Regions from separate parts of the Homo sapiens genome. Here region 1 is linked to region 2. The links come from fine-mapping of genetic effects on plasma protein levels. A gene starts in region 2. The other region holds a variant in brackets. All regions are shown on one strand. Distances are between the middles of the regions.

Region 1 (10,891 bases), 150 kb before region 2:
CTCGGTTTTTTCAGACAAGACGTCAGCTAGGGTAAAATAAAATGTATTCCTACATGAGCAATTTTATTTGAGAATCTGCAGAAACAGGAATGATCTCTATGGCATTTTTAAATTGTAACATTAAGTGCTAATGTGTATGACTTCCAGACATCTGAAGCCATAAACTTCTTTGCAAGTTACATGCCGACACTTCATTTGGGCAGTAAATCAGCTGTCACAGTGACTTACTGCAATGACAGCAAAAGCTCCAGCACTCCAGACAGTGGGATTTTTATGCTGCCAGCAGAAAGGTCTTTTCATAGACACTCTTACAAGAAATCAAAATTCTATTCTATTAGTATCCAGCATTCGGCCAATTTTTGACCTTAAAAATTGGTAATGTCATATGATTCAACCTAATATTTGATACATATGAACTTTTAAAAGGTTGTTTTGGAATAAAAACATGAGTATCTCAGTTTTCTGTTCAGAGTAGATGGACTATCACTGTCAGATATCTAAGTGGTCAGCTGTTTTTCCTTAGGATTATATAACTGGTTAGATCAATTCAAACATAACCAACGGCTTCTTGGTGTTAGCCGGGATGTATGCACAGCCACCAAATTGTAAGAGAGAAAAAGCGAGCGGTGATGTCTCCCTCTACTGGTGGAAGGTAAAAGGGTCCTCAAATGAAAAGCCAGGAAGGCTGGGTAGCGGAGGGAAAAGGGTTCAAAGTAAAAAAGAGAGAGGTAGAAAGGAAGAAACAAAGAAGAAAAAGAGAAGACGGAAAAAGGAGAAGTGGGAGAGAAATCAATGGGGAAGAAGGATAGAGGGGAAGAGAGTTGGTGAGTCCAGAGAGCAAGAAAGTTAAGTAGAAAAGTCAACAAGAAATGGGCAAATAAGAATTAGAAGCAAAGGTTTAAAAAAAAAAAAAGGGAAGTGTAAGAATATTTGTCATGGCCATCTCCACAGTAACCCTGAAAATACTGGCCATTTTCCCCCATGACTTTCTCAAATGAGAATCACAGCCATGAAGGTTTATGAACCCATCGCCCTTGGAATTCTGGCAGAGTGGAAAATTAGGAAAAGCTCTTTTAAAAAAATCAGGTATCCCTGAGTCATTTGATATCTAAGTTTTTTCTAAGAAGCATATGTTCAAAACAGGCGACGTTTTGAGAGCGTTTAATGAGAATTGTAAATTCCAGTCAGTAGAGTCATTGCACTACCCTTGGTTGGAATCTGACAAAACTCTGCTCTGTCCACGCCAGTGCTCTCTTCTGAGCCAACAGGAGATTTAGATGGGTGACACCCTGCAGAACAGAGCCTGGTCCCCGTGTGCCCCAACTGAGATTTGCCTTCTAAATGGAAATCAGTTTGAATGTGGCAAAGTGTTTTCAAAGCTGTGAACTACACGCAGGACTTAGATACTTAGGTGCCTGATGCCAGTGCCCCTGCCCCCTGCTGTCATCCCAGCAGGAAAGCTGGGGAGGGCACAGAGAGTAGGTTCATTATTACTACAAAAGCAGTCCCTCTATCAGGGGAAACACCCATAGCTAGACTTAGATAGACAGTCATCTTTTAAGATGTTTAAACAAATCTGTGTAGAAGAGGTGCTTATCATCAGATAAGTCAGGGTTCCAAAGAGTCATTTGGAAAACATTTCTGAGTGACTTCTATATAGATTTTTTAAATTAAATGGCTTACGGGCTAGGCACGGTGGCTCAGACCTGTAATCCCAGCACTTTGGGAGGCCGAGGAAGGCAGATCACTTGAGGTCAGGAGTTTGAGACCAGCCTGGCCAACACAGTAAAACCCCCATCTCCACTAAAAAAAAAAAAAAAAAAAATACAAAAATTAGCCAGGCATGGTGGTGCGTGCCTGTAGTCCCAGCTACTCAGGAGGCTGAGGTAGGAGAATTGTTTGAACCCAGGAGGCAGAGGCTGCAGTGAGCCAAGATCGTGCCACTGCACTCCAGCCTGGGTGACAGAGTGAGACTCCATCTCAAAAAAAACAAAACAAAACAAAAATTAAATGGCTTAGGCTAAACTTCTTCTTTCACAAATATTATTTCACACCTTCTTCAAGTCCTTAAGCTTCACCCTTGACAAACTCAAGAGCATTTCCAACAAGGTCCTGGCCAGTGAGGCCCACACAGTGTTTGCTACAGTTCTTAACAAGTCGTAGGTACAGCATGGCAAAGCACCAGTAGGTATGTGCTGGAGTGGGCCAGGTTTGGAGTGGTCTGAACCATGCCATGGGAGACCTCCTTTAAGAAAAAACAAACAATATGCAGAGAACGAGGCCTTGGAAAGAGGCTGTGTAAGTAAAGGAGCCTGAAGCATCATTAGCTTCCCAGTAAAGCCACCTCTAGGGCTGTTATCTTTAAGTTAGCAAAGGGATGTTTGCAAATGGAAGTCTCCGAAGGTGCACCCAACTCTGCATCAACCCCAACAGGGAACACAGTCTCTCAGGAGCTTAACCGACCACTGCCGACAGCCACCTTATCCGAGAAGGTTCTCGTGGGTGTGCAGGAGCTCTTTGCAGGCTTAGGTGGCAGAGAGGTGATCAGGGGAGAGGAAAAGGGCCAGCAGCTGATGGAGTAGTGCAAAGTAGAAGAATGCACAAGAGAGGGGTGGTGGGGGGGGAAGACAGAGAGTGGAGGAGAGCCCACCTCTCCCCAGAGAGGAAAGTTGAAAGAAACAGAGGGTTGAGGCGAGCCCACCTCTTCCCACAGGGAAGGTGAAAGAGACAGAGAGGGTTGGAAGGAGAGGAGCCCGCCTCTGCCCTCAGGCTCCTACTGTGTGACCTTGACTGTCTCCTCCAGCTCCACCCTCGAACATATTTTTCTGTGAGTCTGTGAGAGTCAGTCAGAAGTACTTGGGCTGAACCCTAAAACAGAATTTGCCAATTAGTCTTCAGTAGAGAAGGCTTTCTTCAGGTCAACAGAGACAAGCAAATCTAATTTGCCATTTCCTTGTTCCTTAGAGCCAGGGGGTATTGTGTGGACAGAAAGCATTAGGATGAGTGAGGGCTCCAGAGGGGAAGCTTGAAAACAAGATGCCTTGGTCCAGCAAGGGCGCTGGCTTGCCAGCTGAGCTCTCTGAAGCGGCAGCTCCGCCCTGGGCTCATTCCCAGGCCCGGCCTGCTGGAGGCTGTGCGGAGTTACAGGAAATGGGAGTGCCGCTGCGGCTCAGCTGCCTCTGTCAGTAAGAATACGAAACGGTGATGTTCATAAAACATTCTTTGCAAAGCACAGTCCGTCCAAACCCTGGTATAGTTTCCAGAAGACGAATGTTTAATCAATGAGGCTGCTCTGCCTCTGCCTCTGCCCTGTCAAGACTGAGCCCATGTCCTGAGCAGAGCTGACAGCATGGGAGAGCGCCCGCAGCCTACACAGGCCACAGCTGTCTGCAGCCTGCTCAGTAGCCCCCACCGGAAGGGACCTGCACCCTGAGCTGAAATTCCCTGCAAGAGCAGAGAAAGCTACTCTGTTGCCCACCTGACAGCTTGGAGAAGCACCGCCGTGGCACAAATGATTGTGGTGATGAGTGGAAAGGATTGTTAACGCTTCACAGTCAGCCCCTTCCAAGTACTTTTTATTTATTTATTTATTTAGAGACAAGGTCTTGCTCTGTCGCCCAGGCTGGAGTACAGTGGCGTGATCTCAGCTCACTGGAACCTCTGCCTTCTGGGCTCAAATGATTCTCCTACCTCAGCCTCCTGAGAAGCTGGGATTACATTTGTGTGCCACCATGCCCAGCTAATTTTTGTATTTTTTGTAGAGATGAGGTTTTGCCATGTTGCCCAAGCTGGTCTCGAACTCCTGAGCTCAGGTGATCCTGCCTGCCTTAGCCCCCCAAAGTGCTGGGATTATAGGCATGAGCCACTGTGCCCGGCCGCCTTCCAAGTAGTTTCTAATGGCCTTTCCTTTCCTCCAAATAACCCTACTCCCCTCCCCTCCCCCGCACTTTGGCACCTTTCTTTCCCAAGCCTTCCCCAGCTTCTCAGTGTTTTGCAATTGCACTGTCCAGGCTAAAGCCACAGAAAAGCAAGGATCTTCGTGAGACTTGCTTGCCCTCTTCATAGCTCCACTATGAACTTTACTCTTGCCTAGGACCTAATCTTTGAGCATCTAAAGCCTGCAGATTCTTGAAGACTGCAGCCCCTCAACCTTCTCTTCTAGGCTGGAGGGTGGCTCAGGGTGGCCTACTACTTGTGATTTTAGAAAGAAACCCATGAGGCTGGGAAGGAAGTGTGCACTGCATGAAATAAGTGCCTTAGGATCAGCAGCTTTGGGTGAACTTCCTCCCTCCCCTCAAGGCTGCGTTGTGCATGTTGGCTCTGCACCGCTCTGTGGCTGCAGGGGTATGAGCAATGGCAGCTCTGTGCGAGTCTCTTATCAGGAAGAGGTCGGAGCACCTAAATCACAAAGCCATTGGTGAGTGGTTCTTCAGTAACTCTAGCCTTCTGATAAAGAGGAGGAGATAATAAGCCAAATAACATTTATTAAGCATCTGCTGTGTCCAATGTGGAATAGTGGAAAGAGGTCTACCCCAGCTCCAAATCCTAGATCCATCCCTTACTTTCATCTGTAAGGTCTTGATCGAGCTGTCCAACCCATCTGTGCCCCAGGGTCTTCATTTGTGAAGAGGGGAACAGGCTCATTCTAAGAACTCCTGCAGAAGTGAAGTGGAGCAGCCACTTTATAGCTTGAGCACAGAGTCCCGATTTGCTCACCTAATATCCATGTCTGTTCCTCCTTCCCATCAAAACACTGCTCCTGAATCTCACTGAGAAGGTACCGCACAGGCTCAAGTTGAAGATTTATAAGTCCTGTTAAGTCTCTTCTAGCTGTTCTGAAACTTGCCCATAGTTCAAGGAGAGGGTTTGCGGAGCTATCAGGGGTGCCTGTCGCATAG[C/G]CTGGAAATGTGCTTACACTATCTTCTTTGCCCAGTGAGCGAAGGGAAACAGAGGACACGAGGCAGATATCATGTGACTTAAGAACGCGTGGAAGAATAGGAAACGTCTTCTCAAACGTGGGCATTCTCAGACCACAGAGGCTTCGGGAATGGCTCTTGAAGCTGTTGGAAATTTAGCAGTGGGGAATTCTAGGCTTTTACCAAACAGTCTTTTCTTTTTTTGGTGGTAAAATAGACATGGCATAATATTTGCCACTTTAACCATTTGTAAGTATAAGTTCAGTAGTATTAAGTCCGTTGATGTTGTTCTGCAACCACCACTACCACCCATCTCCAGGGCTTCTTCATCTTCCATGGCTGGAACTCTGCATGCCTTAAACACCAGCTCCCTCTTCCTCCCGCCCCAGCAGCCACCATTCTTCCTTCTCTCTAAGAACATGACCCTCCAGGGACCTTGTTTGAGTGGAATCACACAGTTATTCGTCTTTTTGTGACTGGCTTGTTTCACTTAGCATGCTTTCCTCAAGGTCCACCCATCTCGTGGATGTGTCCGAATGCACTTCCTTTTTAAGGCTGAATCAGTAACACTGTGTGTCTACACCGCACCTTGTCCCTGCTGTCATCCATCAGTGGACACTTGAGTCACTTTTGACTTTTGACTTACTATCAATAACATTGCTATGAACATGGGTGTACAACTCCTGTATTTTTAAAACAATGTGGTTTAAAAAATGGTTTTCAGCATACAAGAAACAGCCACCCACTGCTGTAGATGGCCTGTGACTCTGTCCAAGAGATTTTTTTAATTATGTCCTTTAAATTGGGAACCAAGACCACTGGCTTCATAACCAGTGGCTGCATGTTATGACTGGGCACCCGTGGTGACTTCATTTGAGCAGAGGCAATTGCAGCACCAGGCGCTGGGTGTCTCTCCCAATGCACCTGGACCACTGTAGGCGCTCCCTGCCTGGCTGACTGAGGTGTCACTAACGGTTTCTCTCTTCTCGCACCCCACCCTCCCCGCCCGTGCCCTGTCCCCATCCCTGTCCCTCCCCACCTCTGCCCCCTCCTCTCCACCTTCTCTTTGCTGGCGCCTCCCGCTCTCCAGTGCGACCAAGACCAGTGCATTCAGAGCACCAAATTCGTTTTGCAGGCTGCAGCCACGCCCCTGCTGCAGAGCGAGCCCAGCCTCACCAGCGACGAGCTGCACCTGCCCGGGAAGCCTGGCCTGGGCACGCCCTGCGCCAGCCTCACACTGGGCCCGCCCACACCGCCCGCCTCCATGCCCAACCTCGCCGAGGCCACGCTCGCGGACGTGATGCCCCGGAAAGATGAGCACATGGGCCACCAGTTCCTGACGCCCGATGAGGCGCCCTCGCCCCCCAGGCTACTGGCGGCGGGCAGCCCCCTGGCGCACAGCCGCACCATGCACGTGCTGGGCCTGGCCAGCCAGGACTCCCTGCATGAGGACTCTGTGCGCGGCCTGGTGAAGCTCAGCTCCGTGTGACCCACATGGCCCCAGGCCGGGGGACACCAGAGGCTCCTCCATGGGCAGCAGGAGTGAGCGGAGGGGTGTGTCCCACAGCGACTTTCCCAGCCAATGCCACGGTGGAGATGACAGCCCCAGGTCTGGGGTACAGAGACCACTTAGGATGGCACAGGGTGGCTGGCCCCGGATGCTGAGAGCTTGGTTTCATTTGAATTTTCTTCCCCAACCTGAGTGCTTTGACAACAATGGAAATAGAGAAGTGGCTGCTTTCTTTTGGTGACCCTCCAGGGGTGGAATCGGAGTGTGTCTGCCCGCCCTTGTGACAGACACACGGAAGGCTTCTGACGCTTGTGGCCAGACTGCAATTGCACTTATGTGTTATGCTACTAATATTTGAAACAGACCTGCCATTCCATTTGTTAATTAAAAAAAAAAAAAATCCTAAAGGGAAAAAACCGACCAGGTGTGGATCTGCATGCCACGCTGCCGTCTGTGTTACAGTGGTGTTGCTATTTCCAAGGAAGTGCTGCTTTCTTTTTCTTTTTTTAATTTTGTGAATTTTCAAGTGCTGTTTTGTTGGAAGACAGTGCAACGAACTGAGACTAATGGACAGTGTCATCACTCAGCTTACTGGGCTGAGGCGTCTGTGGAGAGGTGGCACCGGGGCTGCAGAGGGCGGCTGGGGTTCCGTCGTGTCGGGTGTCACTTCACCTTCTGTTTGGCCGCTCGATGAGGTCTCGTGTTGAGATATTGTGTGCCACAACCCCCACAGTCTTCACCTCCGTGTGTGATGAAACTTCCCGTGGACAGCCAATAAAATGACGTCCTCTGTTATTTTGGATCTGCGTACGGTTATCCTTAATAGCATAAATGAAAACAAAGTCATCCAGATGGGGAGAGTTTTTCTTGAAATGTCCCTAGCGAGGAATGGTCCCCAGACAACCAAAAGTCAAATCTTTGAACTGGGAGATATTTATAGAATAATTTCTTAGATAAGAGGCAAGTTTTCCATCATTTATTTTCTTTAATTATCTCTTTTTGACACCATCTTAGTGGAATTTGCTCTACGTTTGCAGTTTGCCGTGCAACAGTTGATCGGAAGTAGGGAGAGGGGAGGGGACGCTCAGGGAGAAGGTTCTGTCGGGCGTCTTCTGGGCTTCCTTCTGTGTTAACGTGTCACTCAATCCCAGAAGTGCAACTTGAGGTCCTAGTAAAGGTATCAGAAAATGAGGAGGAGAAATCGGCTTACAGTCTAAGCTGAGATCATGTAGGTCATCATCCTTCCTAGACACTGATCAGAATGAAATTAAGAAAATGACCACTTTGTTCACTTTCATTGGTCACCTAGAAGGGAACGAACTGGCTCTGGACTTAGGGAGTGTGTCACTATGGGGGCAGCCACAGGGGACACAGCAACTCCTCTCCTGGCTTCTTTCCAGACCATAAATCTAACAGCTAAAGCTACTCAAGTTCAAAGCCATGGCCTTGCTCCTTATAACCATATGAAAGACAAGACACATTGACCAATGATACAAGTAACCCAAGTGATTTGCATTTATGGAAAAAGGCTATTACTCCTGAGAAAGAGTTGCCATTTTATATAAAAGAAAAGAAGATAGGAAAAAGAAAAGCACACAAGTTTTATTTGGAATGAAGGCAATTCACAGGTCACAAAATAATTCATGCTGAAAGGGCCTGCAGAGTTCTTGCACTGTGATGTCTTCGAGCCATCTTTATTGTCATGCTGCATGCACGTATAGAAAATGGAATAGGTCCATTCTATGTAGCCATTTTTGATTTTCTGAACCACCTAACTACTTGTACCCACCTGCAATGTGTAATTCATGGGGCAGTGCCCTCCTTACACAACCGCACACGCTCACAGGCACCAACTCACAGGGATTCTCCTTGTCCACGCTACCTGTGAGCCCAAAGTGACAGCCCCACAAAGGAGCTTCCACAACTTCCCAAACCGTCTCTGCTCCTTGCTTTCTTCCACCTGCTCCCCAGAGGCCCCAGGAAGGAGTTGGCCCTGATGAGAACGGTGCTCCATGGGTGACCGCGAATCCGGCTTAGCCCTCACTCCGGTCCCACGTGTGGCCCAGTCCATTCTCAGCTCATTCCCCTGGAAAGCAAGATCATGGTCTTCAGAGGCCTCCCGCTTCTAACATTTCCTAACTCAGTGGTTGCCACTCTCCTGTGACCAGCCCTTCTTCCCACCTCACTGTGAAAAATTCCCAGAAGCCAGGATCACGACTCACTTGTCTTCACATAATGGATATTTACTTAATATTTATTATCAATTTCCCCACCTCCAACCCTGTCCCTGGCACACACTTGGCATCATTTATCCAATAGGGGACTGGGAATTTTGGTGAAGTGAATCAAGGCTATTCAGGGTCAAGAGAGAGATTAACTTGAATGGGCCAATTTGCTAGATAATTAATGTCTTAAAAACCAAAACCAGAGAGAAGCCCACAGCCCTGTCCTCTGTGGCTTGAAAAAGAAACCCAGCATCAGAGGAATGAGCGATGATGCCCCCTGGGGCGCCCACTTCTGTTTGTCAGGAGGGATGGTCGGAGGGGCAGCTCACCTGGCGAGGTGATGGCTCTGCATTTCCCACGAACATATATGTGACATGTACATAAATATAAATACTTATGTTTATAAATGTTGAATGGTTCCTTCTAGCTGTGGCTGAGTAGACGTTGGTGTTTCTAACTTCTTTCAGTGTGTTAGAGATTGATTACATGCTAGCTATAAAAAGTAAAATAAATATTTTACCATGCTATTAAAGCTTGGACCATTATCAAACACACACAAACACACACTCATTCTGCTGTTTAAAAATTCATCTGCGTTCGTTCTCCCAGGAGTGCTCCAGGGAACCACAGGCTTCCCGGCACTTGAAGGCTGAACTGAGCGTGAGTGCCCTGGTCCCCAGGAAGCAGGCGGATGCTGCAGGAAGGTGGCAGACAGCCTGCATCCAGGAGGGCCCCAGGAAGTGGGGATGCTGCAGGAAGGCGGCACAAAGCCTGCATCCGGGAGGGCCCCAGGAAGCAGGGGGATGCTGCAGGAAGGTGGCAGACAGACTGCATCCAGGAGGGCACAGTGACCTGTCACTCCGTTCTGCAGAAATTGGCCCAGCAGTTGCGTTATGCCCAACCAAAAGATGCTCGTTCCAGCTTTCAAATGTGATGATTTCAGCCTGTGAGGACAATGCCATGTCCCCACCCTAAGCCAGCAAAATGCGAAATCTCTGTTCTGGCCCAGAATGGCACAAGGGAGGAGTCTTTGCAGAGTTCCACGCCACCCCCCAGCTTACTGCGGCCTTCACCGGCTCTGTCTAGGATTGCCAGCTGTGGTTCCAAGTGAGGAGCAAACCCATTTTATGAGCCATGTTCCTGCGGAGACCTGATGGGCCAGGCCTTCTGTGGCTTTGAAAACCCCTAAGCTCTTCACCTCCTGGGCCTAGGCCTTCTTGTCTGACTCAACAGCAAGAAAAATGAACTTGCCAAAATTGGCAGTAGGTGTCCTTGACACAGGGGCTTCTGATGGCATCGCCCAGAAAATGCTGGAACCAGAACTGGTCAGAGACTTTGAAGGGCACAGCCTGGCGGGCTACTCCCCAAGGGTCTCAGGTCTCTGCCCACCTGACTACCCTGCAGCAAACGCTTCTCTGTAACCTGACTTCTCCCTTCAGACCTCAGCCTACAACCATCCTCTTCATGCCAGGAACCAACTGCTTCTCAGCCTCGGCTTAGGGTCTTAAGTTCACCAGAAGGGATCGGGGTTTGCGTTGATATTATAAGGAATCTTCCCAGAAGGAGCTGCCCTTCATCCATCCACAAGAATACATTGAGTTCATTTAGTTCTTGACCAGGTAAGAAAAGAATAAAGGAGAACAAATATTAAATACTCTTTTCTAATTGATGCCTTACTACTGTTTTGAAGCTGAGCCGAAATCAAATTGATGTTTACATTTTCTATCAAGTACACATGAGCTGTGGGAGTCTAGCATATTCTTGTCCAAAAGAGAGAGACTTTCAAATGAATTCCTATTCCTCTTGGTCCCCTCCACCTATTTTGGAGGTCTGCATGTGGAGTTGTATGCTATTTTCCAAGGTACCTCATTTAAAAAAAAAAAAAAAAAAAAACTGCCTCTCATTTGTTCCCTTAAAACGTCTCTCTCTCTCATAAAACTAAGTTATCATTGAAATATTAAACGATCTGAAGCGTCTTTTTTTTTTTCAAATAAATGTCAAAGATGGTAATAGTTTGTAAATCAGTAAATCCTCTGTCCATCTGCCCATTGTCCATGGTCCTGATAATAGAGCCAAGATGGATTTTCACATGTAAGGTGTTAGTCCATTAATCCAGCCATTAAAAGTAGTTGGGAGATTGAAGATTAGATGGTTTCTGGAGCAACCGAATTTGCAGCTGCCACAAAACTAGATAAATAGCCACAACTGGAGTTATTTTTTGATCTCATAAACCCCAGGAA
Region 2 (10,481 bases):
GGCACGTGTATACCTATGTAACAAACCTGCACATTCTGCACATGTATCCCAGAACTTAAAGTATAATAATAAAAAAAAAAGCAGCAGCTAATAGACCACACCAGCCATGAGAGGAACCCCTGCCTCCTAAACTCCTCGAGTGCCAAGCACCAGGCCAGGGCTCTTGTGTGTATCCCTCCAGTCAATGAACACACAATTGCCCCCTGAAAACCGCCCCTTTGCTATGCAAATATTGACACGGGAGGTAACGGGTAGATCATAACTATTTATAAGAACCATCTGTGTTTCTAAACAGTCATTTACTTAATATTTTTTAAATTAAGCTAGAATTTCTAAAGAGTATAACAATAAACTTGTTACCTGTTTTGAAACTAATGCGGAGTTTGTATTTACTGGAATTGTGAGCTTTATGCACTTGTTTACTAAAAAGGATATTTTGCATTTTGACATTTTCTTACTTCATCAAAAGCTTTAATGATTTTAAAAAGCAGAAAAGTTACTGATGTGCCTGGAAAAATCCTGAGAAACTAGAGTTAGGAACATTCTCTAGACATGGAAAAGAAGAGATGAAATACACCAAGGGACTGAAATGAAATACAGTGGGGTAAAAGATAGAGGATATTGAGGAACGAAATGAATGACTGGAAAGAAAAAGAAGAAAGGAATGCCACAGGAGTGAGCAAATACAGGTACTGGGTGTGATCAATACTCTGTAGTCATTGGAAAACAGCATCTTGGGAAATTTGTTACAGAACTGAGAACTGCAAGAAGATATTGGCCACCACCACCATGAAGCCCAGCACATCGTTATAATAACTATTAAGATCTGTTAGAACTTCCTGCTACTCCAGTTAATCACGGACTCTTCAGAACAAACCCAGGGCAACACTGCTATGCTATTGACTGAATGTTTGTGTCCTCCTTAAATTCAGATGTTGAAATCCTAACCCCTAATGTAATGGTATTTGGAAGTGAGGACTTTGGGAGGTGATCAGGTCATGAGGACAGAGCTCTCATGATTGGAGTTATGCCTTATAAAAGAGATCCCACCGCGCTTGTTCACCCTTCCACCATGTGAGGACATAGCGAGAAGATGGCTGTCCATGAACCAGGGGGCACTCACCAGACACTGAATCTGCTGGTGCCTTGATGTTGGACTTTTCAGCCTCCAGAACTGTGAGAAATAAACATTTGTCGTTAATAAGCCACCCAGTCTATGGTATTCTGTTATAGCAGCCTGAACAGACAAGACAGACATTGGTACTGAGGATCAAGATGAAAGTACCTGCTCAAGTTCACACAGGTGACAAGCAGCAGAAGTGAGTTTCAAGCCAAGGATGCCTGATGCCACGACCAAGGCCATCTCTTCAGCACTCAGCACTCAGCAGTGGGTGGGCTTTCTGATGAAAGCCCTGGGGAAGGAGAACAGGACTCACAAGGGATGGAGGCTGTAATTTGCAGTGTCTGGCTCTAAATCATGGCGGTCACAGCAAATGTCCTGTACTTGTATTTAGCAAGCACTGTCATTAGAGTTGCCTTCCATAAAGCAAGGATATGAGAGTGTGTCAGTGTGTGCTGGCATGTTATGTGGGGCTTTTAGCTTTAAAAGTAGCACTTGAGCCAGGCGTGGTGGCTCACGCCTGTAATTCCAGCATGTTGGGAGGTCGAGACCAGTGGATCACGAGGTCAGGAGTTTGAGACCAGCCTCGCCAAAGAGACCAGCCTGGCCAATATGGTGAAACCCCATCTGTACTAAAAATACAAAAATTAGCTGGGCATGGTGGCAGGCACTGTAATTCCAGCTACTTGGGAGGCTGAGGTCGGAGAATTGCTTGAACCCGGGAGGCAGAGGTTGCAGTGAGTCAAGATCGTGCCACTGCACTCCAGCCTGGGCAACAGAGGGAGACTCTGACTCTAAATAAATAAATAAATAAATAAATAGCACTTGAGCCCTGGAGGTCAAGGTTGCAGTGAGCTGTGATTGCATCACTGGTTTGTAGCCTGGGCAACAAAGTGAGACCCTGTCTCAAAAAAAAAAAAAAAAAAAAAAAGAACTCTCTATAGTTTGTGTATTAGTCAGGGTTCTCTAGAGGGGACAGAACTAATAGGATATATACACAAACACACACACACACACACACACATATATATATATACATATATATATGAGTTTTTTAAGTATTAACACACATGATCACAAGGTCGCACAATAGGCCACCTGCAAGCTGAGGAGCTAGGAGAGCCAGTCTGAGTCCCAAAACTGAAGAACTTGAAGTCTGATGTTCAAAGGCAGGAAGCATCCAACACAGGAGAAAGATGTAGGCTGGGAGGCTAGGCCAGTCTATTCTTTTCACGTTTTTCTGCCTGCTTTATATTCTAGCTGTGCTGGCAGCTGATTAGATGGTGTCCACCCAGATTAAGGGTGGGTCTGCCTTCCCCAACCCAGTGACTCAAATATTAATCTCCTTCGTCAACAGGCTCACAGACACACCCAGAATCAATACTTTGCATCTTTCGATCCAATCAAGTTGACACTCAGTTTTAACCATCACAGTTTGTAACTTGAGCAATGACACATGAACTAGCAAAATGTCCTATATCCACTGTTACTTCTTTGTGCCCAATCACTGAATGCCAGTACGTCTCCAAGGACTCACGCCAGCCTGTCCTTAACAGGTCAAAGAATTAAAACAATATCCTAGGGCAAAGTTTCATGAGACACCAGGGATCCTACAGGCTGGGACTTCATTTGGGAAGCCAACTGGTGAGCCAATCTTCTCTTGCTGCCCTCACCTCACAGCTCAGTCCTTCTGGGAGTCGGAACTACCCAAACTCAGCAAACAGTCTAGTATAGAACCTTGAGCAAACGGTTCCTGTTCCAGCCTAACACCGCCTGCTGCTGCCACCTCTGCCATCCATGCAGCCTCCCTAGCCTCCAGTCTCTCTCTGCCCATGCCAACTGTCCCTTCCTGGACTGCTCAGGTCCTAGCAGTCAGATTTCTGCTCAATTTCTAGTTCTGGACACTATGTCCCGTTACTGTTTACGGCTCTGTGTCTCCCAGACGATGGAGAAAGAAATGTGACTTAGTCAAAATGGAACAAAAATGAAAACCAACCAATCAGCTAACCAACTAAAACAAACATAATTTTAAAACCATACACTTTTCATACATACATTCAGCTAGTCTAATGCCAAGGGGAAACCTTATAGGAAAAAACCTCTCCTGCTTCTCTTTATTCCTATAAAGATTCTTCAGAGCACTTATAAAAGCACCTGGCACATTAGACATTTATTTGTAGTTTATTGACTTCCCCCACCCTCTACAGATTGTTAAGTTCTAAGAGAGCAGGGACTTTTGTCTCCCTCACCTGTAACAGCATCCAGTCCAAGGTGAGGACGTCATACGTTTATTAGGATTGGAATGGCACCAGCTGCACTCCTTTCCACGTTTATTTTCAAGGTCACCCCAAGGTTTTCTTTAACCTCATTAAATTCATGCCCTAAAGTGAGAGGAGGTATCCCCTTGTGCCAGACCCAGGCTGACTCTGTATTGTTACACATTATTCTCATCCTCCGATCCTTACATTAGGTGACCATCACACATTTTCACTCCGTTCCACATTAGTTCCCATAGTTGCACTTTCCCATGCTAGTTTCCCATTAGTTGACCAAGCATTTAGTTGGGCTCTGAGCTCTTAAAAACCAAAGGAGAATCTAATTTTGAATAAAAACACCTGGCCATACTGAACAAACGCAGGGAAGAGGTGGTGGTCATTATTTTCCTGTCCCCCCAGCTGTGTGGCTGGACGAAGCTTCCTGTGAATCCTAATCACTTTACCTCCTGTGGCATGATTCAAAAAAAAAAAAAAAAAAAGCAGCTAGAGTACAAAGCCTAAACAGAGTGGCTCTGTTGCTCTGCCTCCAGGTCTTTTTCTTTTGAAAGTGCAATCTAGTAATAACCAAACGCAGTCTGCAAATGCAAATCCAATTGCTTAACTAATTGTGTTCTCACCCCTGGAGTAATGGAAGTTCATGCTGTAGAAGAAAATCTGAACTTAGCATGGCCCAGGGTTCTGGGTTCTGGGTTCTAAAGGCAGGCCTGCGTAGAGAATCAACTCTAAGGAAGCTCGCTCAAAGGACGGAGGTGGACAGAAGAGAGATATGCATGGTTGATCAAGTGGGAGCAGAAGACAAACGCCACCACCGGGTGCAGTGGCTCACGACTGTAATCCCAGCACTTTGGGAGGCTGAGGCAGACGGATCACTTAGGATAAGGAGTTTGAGACCAGCCTGGCCAACGTGGCAAAACCCTGTCTCTACTAAAAATAAAAAATAAAAAATAAAAAAAAACTTAGCCAGGCATGGTGGCAGGTGCCCGTAATCCCAGCTACTGCGGAGGCTGAGGCAGGAGAATCACTTGAACCTGGGAGGCGGAGGCTGCAGTGAGCCGAGATTGGGCCACTGCACTCCAGCCTGGGTGACAGAACAAGACCCAGTCTCTCTCTCTATATACAAATATATTCTATGAAAGTGGGTCTCCTCTATAACATTCATGAAGTAATGTTGATTTTGACTGACGTATATAAAAATAAAACTCCTAAGTTTAGCAGTATTTACTGGAGATATACTACCCAATTCATTACTAAAAATGTGAAAAAGATTTTAGTTATGTTCAAGATCCCTTCGGTGTGGCTTATTGTGAAAGTGCACATGTTTATCTCTTTTTTTTTTTTTTTTTTTTTGAGTCGGAGTCTTGCCCAGGCTGGAGTGCAGTGGCTCGATCTCGGCCCACTGCAACCTCCGCCTTCCGGGTTCAAGTGATTCTCCTGCCTCAGCCTCCTGAGTAGCTGGGACTACAGGCGCGTGCCACCATGCCCAGCTAATTTTTGTATTTTTAGTAGAGACGGGGTTTCACCATGTTGGCCAGGATGGTTTCGATCTCTTCACCTCGTGACCCGCCCGCCGCAGCCTCCCAAAGTGCTGGGATTACAGGCGTGAGCCACAGCGCCCGGCCATGTTTATCTCTGTTTATGTACTTTTTCATTTGTTTTTCACAGTCTTGCTCTTTTTAAAACAACAACAACAACAAAAAACTTCTAGAAATGAGGTCTCACTATGTTGCCCAGGCTGGTGTTGAACACCTGGGCTTAAGCAATCCTTCCACCTTAGCCCTCCACCATTACTTCTAAAAAATAAAACCAGGGTTATGAAATTGTTCTGGTGGGAAAAGCTTGAAGTCTCTAGTCTTCTTGCTTTCATGGTGCTGGGTGCCCAGGATGACTATTTGCATAGGATTTGCCAGATGAGCATGTGGAAAGGCCTGTCTTCACAGGTGTGCCCCTAACTTTGCACCTTCCTATCAAGGGATGCATTGTTGAACGGCTGCAGAGAGAGCTGTACCCAGCCTTCACATTTAAAAGAATATGGAAAACTCATTACTTATGACATTGCCTGAGTTCAAATCCTGGCTTTTCCACATACTAGTGTGTGCTCTTAGCCAAGTTATTTCTTCCATTGTTTATTAAAATATAACTGCTGTTTTTAAATGAAGTCATATATACACATGGTCAAAAACTCTGACAACAGGATCTGGCGAATCTTTCTCAGAAATTTTCTAGGAATGTGTCACATATTTCCTTTTTTTTTTTTTTTTTACATAAATGTACCATACATAATGTTCTTTTTATCTTTCTTAACACCTCTTAGAATATTATCATTTTCTTACGGGCTTCCTAGTATTTTTGTTTGAATGGATGTATCTTATTTACTGAAACAGTCCTGTTAACAAACACATAGGTTGCTTTCTGGTTGGAGTTATTACAGAACAATCTTTGATGAACATCTTTGAACACTTGTACAAGTGTTTGACAGGATAAATTCCCAGGAGGGCTGCTGGGTCCAAGGCTACGGTCATTTTCGATTTGAATAAGTATTACCAAATGGGCAAGTTATTTAAGTGATCCCTGAGTCGCTCTTCTTTGTAAACAGTGGACAATAATGAGTTTCTCAAATGTTTCTTATAAGGATTAAATGAGATGGGGATGTGGAAGCCTAGTATACAGCAAGCAGGCCGTCAATGAATGTTGGCCTCCCAATATTTTTTTTTACGGAGAAAGACAACTATTTATGCATATTATGATGACTATAGCTTAACCATGAGCTCAACAAACACAAAAATTCACAGAAAATTCTGCAATACCGTATCTATTTTAAACCCCATTATTGAATATAACTAGTGAAATCTCAGGTCAAATAGAATGTATTTAAGAAGACACAAACTTGACATTAAACACCAGAGATTTACATTTGATAGTTGTCTCTTCTTACAAATATATCCCTCATAATAATAAAAAAGCACTCCACTAGTATGCCAATTAAGACACATCTTCCAGTCGTGTTTTGTCCTTGAGTGAAAAATCTTGCTGCTCAATTCAAGTCATTCGTTTATTCATAACACCCATATATATATCTCCAACTCTGGAAAGAAACACTGACAGAAAGATGGAAAATTTTAGAGACCTCGTTTCCACTTCAGAGAGCCTGTTGTCCCCCAAACCTCTCGGGCCCTCCGGTATTTTTAAGCTTATCAAGATTCCAGAATGAGGTTAACGGGGCGTCACAGAACGAAACCCCCCACCGTCCCGTCCCAGGGGCTTCAAGCCAGGACCCCGGCCTGAGGGAGCCTCCGGGCAGGAGGAAGAGGCCCAGGAAGCCATCGCTCCGCTCCTTCCCAGCTGTTTATGTGGTACTCAGGGTACTCGGCCAAGGGCACGGCGACCCCGCAACACCCCAGGCGTGGGGCAAAGACAGCGGGGTTGCGGGGCTCCTGTCTGCCCGGGGCGTCGAGAGTTCCTGCCGCCCCCTCCCGCCTCATGCACGGAAAGCGCCGAGCCACGGCGTGCGGCGCCGGCCGAGCGTGAACCGGAGTCGGGGTTCGGCTACCCCGAGCGGCTCTGTGGGCCGCGGATCGCTTCCCCTGGGGCGGCCACGCAGGGTTGCGGGCCATGGCCTGGGGCGCCCGTCCGGACCCCGCCGCTGCGCGGGACGCCGCTCCCAGCCTCGACCAAGGGCGCCCGGGGGCGGCGGCGGCGGCGGCGGCGGTGACTGCCCGGGGCGGCGGCGCGGCGCGGGGGCGGCCAGGAGGCGAGGAGGCCGGGCCGCGGCCGAGGGCCCAGGGCGCGCTTCCGGCGGGCGTCGCGCGCGCCGCGGTAAATGGGAGGCTCGGCCGACAGGGGCGGGGGCCGCGCAGCCGGGGACTTTCAGGAACTGCAGGAGCGTGCGGCGCGGGAGTAGCCGAGCGCCCAGCGGCTGGGCCTGAGCGTCGAGACTCGGGGCCGAGGCGGAGGAGCGGCCGCCGCGCCGGGGCCCAGCCGGAGCCGCCGCCCTCGCCCTTGCCTTTGCCTGCGCGGCTCAGAATCACCATCCGCGGCGCGGGAGACGAGCCGGCCGTCCCGGGCCGGGGGACCCGCCCGCCATGGCCACCAAGGTGAGGGGCGCGCGGCGCAGGCCGGGCCGGTCGCTCAGGCCCGGGGCGGCGCGGAGAGGGTCGGGGCCGGGGCCGCGGGGAGGGTCGGGGCCAGGGGTGGTCGAGGGGCCACTCCGCTTCCTCGGTGGAGTCCCCGGGCGGGTCCGCGGCCCAGCCAGTCCCTTCTGGGCATGGGTGCGGCGGGCAGTGCAGACAGACCACCAGGATCGCACCGGGGGACGGCGTCGGGTCTGGGCGCGGGTTGGGACCCCGGGCGCAGCGAGGTTTGGGAAGTTTGCACCTGAGCGTGGGCTGCGGCGGGCTCGCCGGGAGGGGCCGCGGGACGGAAACTTCCCGCAGCCCGGGGAGGCCCCCGAGGCGACTGGCGCTCTGTGGCGTCCGGCGTCCCCGCCGCCCCCACGTCCCCTCCCGCTGCCGCCTGGGGGACCCTCGCCCCCGCGGGGCGGGTGGGGGTCGAGACCTCGGCGGAGAGGACGCGGCGCTTCCCGTCCCGGCCTGCGGGGGCTCGCGGCCGGGGAGGGACCGAGGCTGGGACGCCCCGCGCCCCTTTGCCTTCGCTGCTGTTATTTTTTTCTTTTGTTTTGCTACCTTTTCATTGTGAATGGCATTGCCGGCATGAATAAAATATCAAGAGGGAAATGACTGTGCTTTCGATTACGTGTTTGCCTGAAAAAAGGCCCAGGCCCGAATTACGTGGTGGAACTTTGACTCCTGCTTCGTCATTGGCTAGGAGCGGTGGTTTGCTTGTTTTACGTTATTGTTTATGAAATTAGCAGTCACTCTTGGCTACCTGAATTTTCAAAAGCCACCCTCCCCCGCTCCTTTTCCTTGGGCGTTTTCAGTAGTTACTTGATGTAGAATAGCCACTGGGGAAGTCACGGTCACGGAAGGGAGGACCTGGGGGAGGAGGCTCTATACCTGAGCCATTAACTGATCTGTGATACACTGTGAGGAGTGGGTTTACTTTTGCACTTAGTTTTTGTAATGTCACTTTGTTAGCATCAGCACCCCTTTGTCTATTTGTTTTTGAGATCTCTGAGCTACTTTTGGGTTGCTAGAAACGTTATTTTTTATTTTTCGATAGGTGTTTGCTTTTTTTGTGGAGTGTTAAGGTAGAAAATGGTAAGAAATGTGAAATCTCTTTGAAAGATCAGCATTGCTTGACTTCGGTCTGCTAGATGTTGTGCTGTGGTAAATTTTGTGCTCTGAATCCATCTAGGTGCAGCGTTTGTAGAGAAATGGGGATTCTCCTCCAGGGAACCTGTTGCTGCTGTTACTGAAATAATTACCTTCTTGTTAATATATTATTGCCTGTGCTGTGCTTTGGTTTTATTAATGCGATAGAACTTGCCACCTTTTTAACGTATTAATTTTGTGTTGACCTTTTTAAAAATAAAACTTAGGCCAAGGATTTCTAAGGAAATTTGATTTTGAGGTTTGTTGCCAGACATTCCAGAAATTACCAGTTACACATCCTAGTACATGCTCATCTTGCAACCTTAAAAGCGGTTTATAGGCCGGGCGCGGTGGCTCACTCCCACCTGTAATTCCAGCACTTTGGGAGGCCGCGGTGGGTGGTTCACCTGAGGTCGGGAGCTCGAGACAAGCCTGGCCAATATGGTGAAACCCTGTCTCTACTAAAAATACAGAAATTAGCTGGGCGTGGTGGCGCGCGCCTGTAGCCCCAGCTGCTCTGGAGGCTGAGGCAGGAGAATCGCTTGAACCCGGGAGGCGGAGGTTGCAGTGATCCGAGATCGCGCCACTGCACTCCAGCCTGGGCGACAGAGCGAGACTCCGTTTGAAAAAAGAAAAGACGAGACTCCGTTTGAAAAAAGAGAAGACGGTTTATGACATAGAGATCTGTCTAGTGGTGGTCAGTGTGTTTTTACACTCTGGTCTACTGAGGCATGTTATCTGTACTGTCCTTTAAGTGGAATGCAGTTTAGCAACTAGTGCAGGTATATATAGTGAAATTTTTATTTCATAGTTAATCCTGAACTTAATTTTTTTCCAAAAAATCGAAAAGTGGTTCTTGTATATTAATCTCGAATTGCATGTGTCTTTGATTAAACACGAGCCTTAAAGCATGCGTAAGGACTTCCTACTTCGTTATCTACACCACTCCAAAGGCAAATTCCAGTAGTTCTGTTAGTTTCTTTCGGCTGCCTAATCACTGTTCCACATGGTGCTCATTTCCATGTTTACATTGTGACAAACCATTTCCATTTTAAGAAAAAGAAGAGCAACGAAGCAGTTATTAAAAGAAGACCCTTCCTTTGTTTTCTGACATGCTGGTGATTCTTGTGTCAAACCAAAGTCTCATTTTTTAATTGTTCCCAGAGAGTCAAGTTGGTGCTTTCCTCCCTTCCCCCATATGCACACTCCTTCCCCACACCTGAGTAGTTGTGTTTTTTCTTTGTCTTCTTCAAGGGGTGGGGAGAATGTGCTTAGTAGTAATGACTAACTTTTAATAAAAATGTAGGCTCCAGTGGCACTCAGGCTGTTGCTATAAGTATTAACTGATGAAAAGTAAATTCAGTATCTGGATATTTTAAGGGATGTCGATTTCCCTTTGAATTTATCAGAGACTTGGCTATAGTATCTTCAGATACAATTTTCTTGTTTGTTCTTACGTATTAAGGATGTGGTTATCACTGAACTATTGGGATTTTTAAAAACTCCACTACTATATTTTACAATAAAAAAGGAAATTATCTTTTAGAAGAAGAACTTTAGTTTGACAGTCCTTCACTGCTAAAGAAAGTTAATCAGGGTCGGGCGCCGTCTCACGCCTGTAATCCTAGCACTTTGGGAGGCCGAGGCGGGCGGATCACGAGGTCGGGAGATCGAGACCATCCTGGCTAACACGGTGAAACTCCATCTATACTAAAAATACAAAAAAAATTAGCTGGGCGTGGTGGCGGGCGCCTGTAGTCCCAGCTACTCGGGAGGCTGAGGCAGGAGAATAGCGTGAACCCGGGAGGCAGAACTTGC

Which allele goes with the higher level. Positions count from the first base shown, and alleles are read on the strand shown. Strength reflects both the effect of a copy and how common the allele is.
For the plasma level of the protein whose gene starts at base 7,287 in region 2, allele G in region 1 goes with a lower level than allele C (weak association).

The links. A credible set is the group of variants that fine-mapping cannot tell apart. PIP is the chance, under the fine-mapping model, that this variant and not a neighbour inherited with it causes the effect. The UK Biobank Pharma Proteomics Project read protein levels with antibody pairs (Olink). The fine-mapping took linkage between variants from a reference panel, not from the people measured, so its PIPs are less certain.
Region 1: its variant is the best candidate, but not a certain one, in a credible set for the plasma level of the SNX9 protein (UK Biobank, PIP 0.62).

Annotation. Positions count from the first base shown.
Region 1 is chr6:157,666,718-157,677,608 of GRCh38, forward strand. It overlaps ZDHHC14 (zDHHC palmitoyltransferase 14), which reads left to right. Exons shown (of 9, transcript NM_024630.3): 9 at 6,007-10,891. The coding sequence ends at 6,405. Among named protein-coding and RNA genes, the nearest start is that of MIR3692, 140 kb to the left of the region's middle. RefSeq lists enhancers at 2,650-3,257, 3,258-3,863. The variant C/G (reference allele first, on the strand shown) is at 4,899.
Region 2 is chr6:157,815,960-157,826,440 of GRCh38, forward strand. It overlaps SNX9 (sorting nexin 9), which reads left to right and starts at 7,287. Exons shown (of 18, transcript NM_016224.5): 1 at 7,287-7,487. The coding sequence starts at 7,476. RefSeq lists a silencer at 7,096-7,415 and an enhancer at 8,066-8,115.